2 linked regions of the Homo sapiens genome follow. The protein of the gene in region 2 interacts with the protein of the main gene of each other region in a pairwise test. Each region holds a gene or a part of one and is shown on either strand. Other genes may lie near its edges. The genes, in order: CAMK2D and HNMT.

Evidence for each region.
Region 1: the proteins of HNMT (region 2) and CAMK2D interact in a two-hybrid assay, tested with the Homo sapiens proteins (one large-scale study listed by BioGRID and IntAct).

Annotation. Positions count from the first base shown.
Region 1 is NC_000004.12:113,513,572-113,517,401, reverse strand, and holds part of CAMK2D (calcium/calmodulin-dependent protein kinase type II subunit delta), read left to right. Parts: intron 1-2,210; coding exon 2,211-2,333; intron 2,334-3,488; coding exon 3,489-3,572; intron 3,573-3,830. UniProt on the Homo sapiens protein: Calcium/calmodulin-dependent protein kinase involved in the regulation of Ca(2+) homeostatis and excitation-contraction coupling (ECC) in heart by targeting ion channels, transporters and accessory proteins involved in Ca(2+) influx into the myocyte, Ca(2+) release from the sarcoplasmic reticulum (SR), SR Ca(2+) uptake and Na(+) and K(+) channel transport.
Region 2 is NC_000002.12:137,970,803-137,974,632, reverse strand, and holds part of HNMT (histamine N-methyltransferase), read right to left. Parts: intron 1-3,830. UniProt on the Homo sapiens protein: Inactivates histamine by N-methylation. Plays an important role in degrading histamine and in regulating the airway response to histamine.

The sequences.
Region 1 (3,830 bases), on a different chromosome or scaffold from region 2:
TCCAGTTTACGTTTCCTTTTAACTCACTGTCTCCTAAGATTGAAAGAAAAGCCATGTGAAGTCTCTGAGGAAGAACTTTGTCAAAATATTTGGACCTTAGTGCATTTTAAAAACATAAAAATTAAAATATTTCTGCTATAGAAATGATTATTGCCTGTTTAGTTGAATTATATTCTCAAATATCTATCACATAATTTTATATTATATACCAACAATATTTTGCTGTGATCACATATCAAATAGAACATTATCCCACTATACCAGTTTCTGGGTTTTGTTTTTTGTTTTTGTACTGTTTGGGATACTATGCAAGCTTTCATTTGAAGAATGAGTTTCACAATTGAAAAATTTGAAAATCATAATTCTAATAATATATTTAATTTATAATTAGAATATTTGAAAGTAGATATATATATATACATTCATAAATTAAGTTCAGAATCTGAAGAGGAAGGCTTTATCTACTTTCTCTTTATGGCTTAACTTTGTGTTTATGATATAATTTGCTCTCCTTTGATACATATTCTTGTAAATATGATTTACCACTTTCTCAGGTTTCCCCTCATACAGCCCTATGGAAATCCATGTGCAGGGTCTGGGCATGCTTTCCATGTGTTATTAAGTAGAGTAACTACAGAGTAGCAATATTGGGTTCACCTTTTGTGCACAAGTTGAAAGCTCAATGTGAAAGTGAGAGGAGAAGATATAAAATGTCTTTATTATATTCTATAATGTCTCGTGAACTCTTCAATGCATTTCTGATAAAAATTTTCTATTTAGATGGATGTGTGTGTCAGCAAGAATTAAAAATGTATATTCTTTGAATTTCAAAGCATTGCATTATTCCTAGACTAGTAATTGGAACAAATTATTATTTACATGGCAATAGCTAGCACATTCACCATCTTTACAGACTAGAACCAGCCCCTCTCTGGGCAGACGTAGCCCTGAAAATGCACTGCTTGGTATACCTAGAGGAATGCTTTCATGAAAATTAGAGAACTGAGGAAAATGTTCACCTTTCTTCATGCTGAACCTACCGCTCATTTGCTATCAGAAGACCTGTACAACATTAAGAAACAGCCTCGTGTGTTTCTTTAACAGCTCCTAATAGTTAGCAAGCTTTTACAACTGCCAAAGATAAGCTTCAGGAATTAAAAAATGGCAATTGTTTAGCTGGCAAAAATTACAGATATTAGAGTCAATATCATTTTTCTCATGCTTTATTATGCCAGTGAGTCACAAGTTCCCCATTTTAAAACTACTAAAAATGGACTAATTTAATTCCATGACACAGTGGCAATGGCTTTATTTTTCAAGATTGTCCATACAAATTCATGAATTGGGAAAATAACCTGATATTCTATCATTTTGCAACTAATGTGGTGTAAATTTCCCTTCATCGTTGAAGGACAGTATTTCTACTAAATATGCTAATCATATAAAAGTAAGTTAAGTAATTATCACTACAAAAAATAATGTAAAGAAAGGAGAAGTAGCTTTCTTATATAGTCTTAATATAAAAAAGTATTAGTAATGGGAAGTTATAAGATTTGATTACTTTCATATACTTTGGTGAAATTTGTAATTGGGCAGATTAAACTTCTTGAAGGGTTAAAATGAAATCTTGCTGAAGCTCCTGTAGTCTCAGATTCTTCTCACTACAGCACTCCAAGTAGCCCTGATTAATAGGTCAGTTTTGGCACAGGAATTGAAGCTGTTTTATTACCTCTGCTATTACTGCTTATGAGTTGTGAAAGTATATAATACCTCATTTTGAACCTTGGCATAATATCATGATGACATTGGTACATGTAGCAACCTGTTTGCTTTTATTAAGTTTTGCAAATAATTATGAGAAAGATTGTATAAAATTTCATTTTCAGATCAAAGCAGAGATACTTTGAGAAGAATAGAAGATTCTTAAGTTCTTTTTTTCTGAATTTTAAAATGTATTTACCATATGTGATATGCAGCTCAGTACATATGTTGGTCCCTTATCAGATACTCTTTAATATATATAGTTGTCTACATAGAGGGGGAGAATAGATCTAAATGGTTTTATTTATTTTAGATACAACTTAACTTATATAAAAAGTAAATTTATGAAGAAATTCACTACTTGAGGGAATGATTCATGTAGTTGACTCTTCCCTGTTTGATCGAGTGTGTCTATTTTTTAAACTTTTTATAAATTTATATTTTTGAAGTTTCCATCACCAGAATGGGACACGGTGACTCCTGAAGCCAAAGACCTCATCAATAAAATGCTTACTATCAACCCTGCCAAACGCATCACAGCCTCAGAGGCACTGAAGCACCCATGGATCTGTGTAAGTAAAACTTCTCCAAAACTTCAAGAACTAAAATGAAAAATAAGCTCTCCTTTAATATATTGTTTATGGATTTAAAATAGCTTTGCAAAAAAAGATGAAACTCAGAATGAATGAATTTTTGACTCGAGGTGTTTAAGAAAATTAATTTTATGATGGTGAAAAAATGCAATTTTCAGTAGCAAAGTCTGAATTGCATAGATTCTTAAATAAATATTGCTTGCAGTAACAAAAGGAATGAGTATTCTCCATATCAATTATTAACAATACTCATGAACAAGGTTAAGAAAATAACACCAAAATTAAATGTGTCCCAGAAGAAAAGATTTAACAAAGTTCAATTATTTATCATTAGGCAACTTTAGAAACAAGTATGAAGTTTGGCAGCTGACAGTAGAGTTTCAGTGGCGTAAAATAATGGTCATAGTAGTCTGAATATATTTTAGAAATATTAAGAAGAATAGTGTGAAATTTGAGGGGGATCTGGAGACTTCAGTAAATTTCCAAATGTGTCAAATGCTAAGGTGATAAATGTGGCACTAAGTAAATGAAAGGCAGCTCAATCAAAATGTGATTGAAGACATTAAAATAAAGATAATTTGAGAAATTATTAATATTCATTTCTATACTTTCTGGTTTGGTTTTGTTTTGTTTTGAGACAGAGTCTTGCTCTTGTCACCCAGGCTGGAGTGCAATGGCACGATCTTGGCTCACTGCAACCTCCACCTCCCAGGTTCAAGCAATTCTCCTGTCTCAGCCTCCCGAGTAGCTGGGATTACAGGTGCCCACCACCACGCCCGGCTAATTTTTGTATTTTTAGTAGAGATGCGGTTTCGCCATGTTGGCCAGGCTGGTCTCAAACTCCTGACCTCGTGATCCACCCGCCTTGGCCTTCCAAAGTGCTGGAATTACAGGCGTGACCCACCGCGCCCGGCCCATTTCTATACTTTCTATACGTCAGTGTTGCATCTTGGTCACAAGTAGTCTTGGCAAAACTAAAATTTTATTTTTAGGTAACTTTGGCAATTGAATACTTAGAAGTTGATCCTGCAGGTGCAGCACCATTAATAAATATTTGATGAAGTCAGGGACATTATTATACTTAGTGTGTTTTAAATATTCTCAATTAAGTTACTTTTTCTCCTCTTCTTCTAGCAACGTTCTACTGTTGCTTCCATGATGCACAGACAGGAGACTGTAGACTGCTTGAAGAAATTTAATGCTAGAAGAAAACTAAAGGTAAGAAATTTTACATTTTTATGGGGAGGTAGATTTGACAGACTAAGAAGTGAAATACTGTGTGAGGAAAATAACTTCTAGCAAAGGCTTTCAATTATGTAGACCTCAATACTCTCATTATTCTTTTTGGGGCTCTTGGGAAATGGAATATACACCAGAATCAAAACTATGGTGAAAAGCTGGAATCATCCTGGCAACACATGCTGTGGATCCTTCCTTCAGTGGAAAACAGCTGTGCAATTTGATAATCAGAATCTG
Region 2 (3,830 bases):
ACCAAACACTGGGACAGATAAAATGATTATCCTTTAAGCAGAGCCCAGAGCAAGGAGAACACATTGGCCGTGACTGCTTTCTGGAACATGTTTTCAGGTATAAATATATGCACTGTAAATTAATAGCATTCTCTCTTACCAAAAAGAATATGGGTTTCTTTTTTCCCACGTACCATCTAGCATGAAGACAACACTCATTAGAGGTTGAATAATAATGAAAACCCCCATCAAGAGGTTTAATTTAAGGAAGCACCAATGTTGATGGACCCAGAAGCATGTTCTATGAGATTTAGAATATATGCATTACTCTCAAAACCTAAAAACAATTGCAGAAATTAACAACATGAATACTTCAAGACCCTGAATAAAGCAATTCTGGCCACTCATTTTGTCTCATTAAAGCACACAAACTCATATACATGAACATACATGCATAACTTTACACTTCCAAGTTTGGTCTCTGTAAAAGCTACATGGTCTGTTTTTCTGTTCATGGTTTGTTTTCCTCTCTTTCTTCCTATTGGGTTCATATAATATTTATTTCATACATTTTCCTAACATTAGAATGTGTAATCTATGGATAACAGTGTTATTTACCAGTTATAATTTATTGATATGGTAGATGACTCAGAGTCATCTACCTTTCTTTTGAACTTCTCAGAGCCCTAATAATTGCTTCGCATCTAAACTGAAGTGCCAAGCACCTTTGCAAAAACCTCACAATCTCTCTTAAACTATGAAAACTCTTTCCACACAAACACCAGACTCAAGAGGAGAGGCTAATCGATAGGGCATATGTGCATCCCCTCCCTGCTCATGTTTCTGAAAAAAATCAAATAGACCACCCCCCCCCAAAAAAAACCATGAGAATTAAGTGGTATAAAAGTAGCAGTTTCATCTAGGAAGGCTTTTAGCTGGTTTTCTTTTGTGTGTTTTTGAAGCACGGTGGGAGAAGTGGTAGCACCATTATGAATGCTTAGAGAATATTTGCACCAAAGCCATGTGCCTATCTATCTGTGCAAACAAGGAAAGAAACTTGAGGTAATAAAACCTGTAAACTAAGACAGAAATGGGACCCTATGAGATACATTACAGGAGCTGAGCACAAAGGAGTGAACAGGATCAATGACCTCATTTGCTAGGGACTGGAGTTTAATGAATGATTTGGAAGGATACTCAAGCCATGGGACAATACAAAACTCTCAGGCACCCTGTAGATCTTAGAATATGTGGGGAGACCATTTCTCTAAGGCAAGGATAGAAAGTTCCTTGCTGTATAGTAATGCATTGTTCTGCCTGATGCTTGTAGTCAGGCCATAATAGGTGATTAGATAACCATCTCCCAGTTGCTACATGAGCACTCAAACTAACTGAAGTAGAGTGTCCTTTCCCCTCAAAACACTGTTCTTTCAAGCAACAGACACCTAGACCTAGGGATTTTAAATGCATTGCTTTTGATTTCATATAACTTAGTTGGGTAGTGAAAGCTAAGTATATATAACTTAAATTTTTCTTGGAGTTTTTCTTACATTTCTGATTGATTTCTTATGAAAAGTGACCTTAAAGGGCACCCACATTCTCCCCAAGGTGGAGTTTGTTATTAATACATTATTAGGGCTCAGTCAGAAGAACTCCAAGAGTTGTTCCCTTTATTTTGTTAAGTTCTCTGTATTAGCTTCCATGTGCACCTTTATGTAAGGACTCACTGTGCAGGCCAAACGTTCCTTTCTCTAGATAGCTTATAAGCATCTGGATAAATTTGCATTAGAAATTCAATTAACTTTATATTAAAAGGTCAATTAACTTGGCCATGATAGAGATTGTTTTTAATTACTTTTTCTTGTAGGCCTTCTCTTCTTGTCCAAGCACAAGTGACACTATCAAATGATAGTCTCATTGCCTGTTGGTTGCCTGAAACTCATATCCAAAACACACAGGAAATAACTGTCTTGGTTAAATGAATTAATAAGACATTCTTTAGACAATTCATAACTATTATAATTTTGGGGACTTAAAGTATAACCAATAATAAAGTATTTTAGCTTAAATACCCTCTATGGTATTGTTCATGACAATTCCCTTCATTGTCTGTCTTTGTTGGTTTCTATTTTCTTGGTGAAAGATGATAATAAAGTAAAATGATTTTAATGATTAGTTCTTATTACACTATATCACAGTGTATTTCATGAAAAATTAACAAATAATGACATTAACAATTAGTGATCTCTGTCGGGCATGGTGGCTCATGCCTGTAATCTCAGCACTTTGGGAGGCCGAGGCAGACAAATCACCTGAGGTAAGGAGTTCGAGACTAGCCTGGCCAACATGGTGAAACCCTTCTCTACTAAAAAATACAAAAATTAGACGGGTGTGGTGGCAGTTTCCTGTAATCCCAGCTACTCGGGAGACTGAGGCAGGGAGAATTGCTTGAACCCAGGAGGCAGAGGTTGCAGTGAGCCAAGATCATGCCACTGTACTCTAGCCTGGGCAACAGAGCGAGACTCCATCTCAAAAAACAAACAAAAAACAAAAACAAAAAATCAGTGATCTCATTTCATTAGAGAGCTCTTAGTTATCTTTGTGTTAATATGAGCCACAGTTCAACTCATTCATGGGGCACTAGAACACTTATACTTAAGAGGTTCAAGGGATTACCACTTGGCATTAAGTTACAAGTGACAATAGTGTCCACTTGATATCGAGTTGTAACCATTACTGAACTATCACTCAGACAAAAGAAAATAACTAAAGATAAATATATAAATAATATATCTACATATTTTATATATTAATGCATTAACCCAAACTTCCAGATGACTTAAAAATAAGGCAAACACTGTTCAGGAGTTGATATTAGGAAAAGTCTTGAGATGAAACTTATTTTACTTTTGCAGAAGGGAATAGCCTTCACTCTCCAGGAGCAATAAGAATGTCCTAAGCACTTTGTAAATGTTACCTATATCACTCTCACTACAACCTTATGAGATAAAATTCATTGTTCCCATTTTACTGATGTTTTAGCCAAGATCATAAATTTCACTGGAGGCTGAGTTACCTGTGTCCATCTACCTTTCCAGACTTTAAATTTTCCCCTAGAATGAAAGCACTGGATCTAAAAGTAATGACACTATAAAATGCCTATAAAAGTATGCTTAGGGCTGGGCATGTGACTCATGCCTGTAATCCCAGCACTTTGGGAGGCCAAGGTGAGTGGATCACAAGGTCAGGAGTTTGAGACCAGCCTGGACAAGATGGTGAAACCCCGTCTCTATTAAAAATACAAAAATTAGCCAGGTGCGGTGGTTGGTGCCTGTAATCCCAGCTACTCAGGATGCTGAGGGAGGAGAATTGCTTGAACCCGGGAGGTGGAGGTTGCAGTGAGCCAAGATTGCACCACTGCACATTTCAGCCTGGGCGACAGAGTGAGAATCCGTCAAAAAAAAAAAGGTGCTTAGGAGTTATCTGAATGCTAGAGGTAATTCTAAGCATTCAGTTTTGGAACTGAGTAAGAGGAAGGGAACAGATTAGGCCCATGCCACTCAAAGAATGAGTTCACAAGAATGTAAATTAACTCTGTCACTGAGCACATTTTTCCCCATGGTGAGACTTTCTCAATGAAAAAAGCTGTGCATCAGTTTATATTCCAGTGCACATTTCTTTTTTCTTTCTTTCTTTCTTTCTTTCTTTCTTTCTTTCTTTTTTTTTTTTTTTTTGAGACGTAGTCTCGCTCTGTCACCCAGGCTGGAGTGCAGTGGCGCGATCTCGGCTCACTGCAAGCTCCGCCTCCAGGATTCACGCCATTCTCCTGCCTCAGCCTCCCGAGTAGCTGG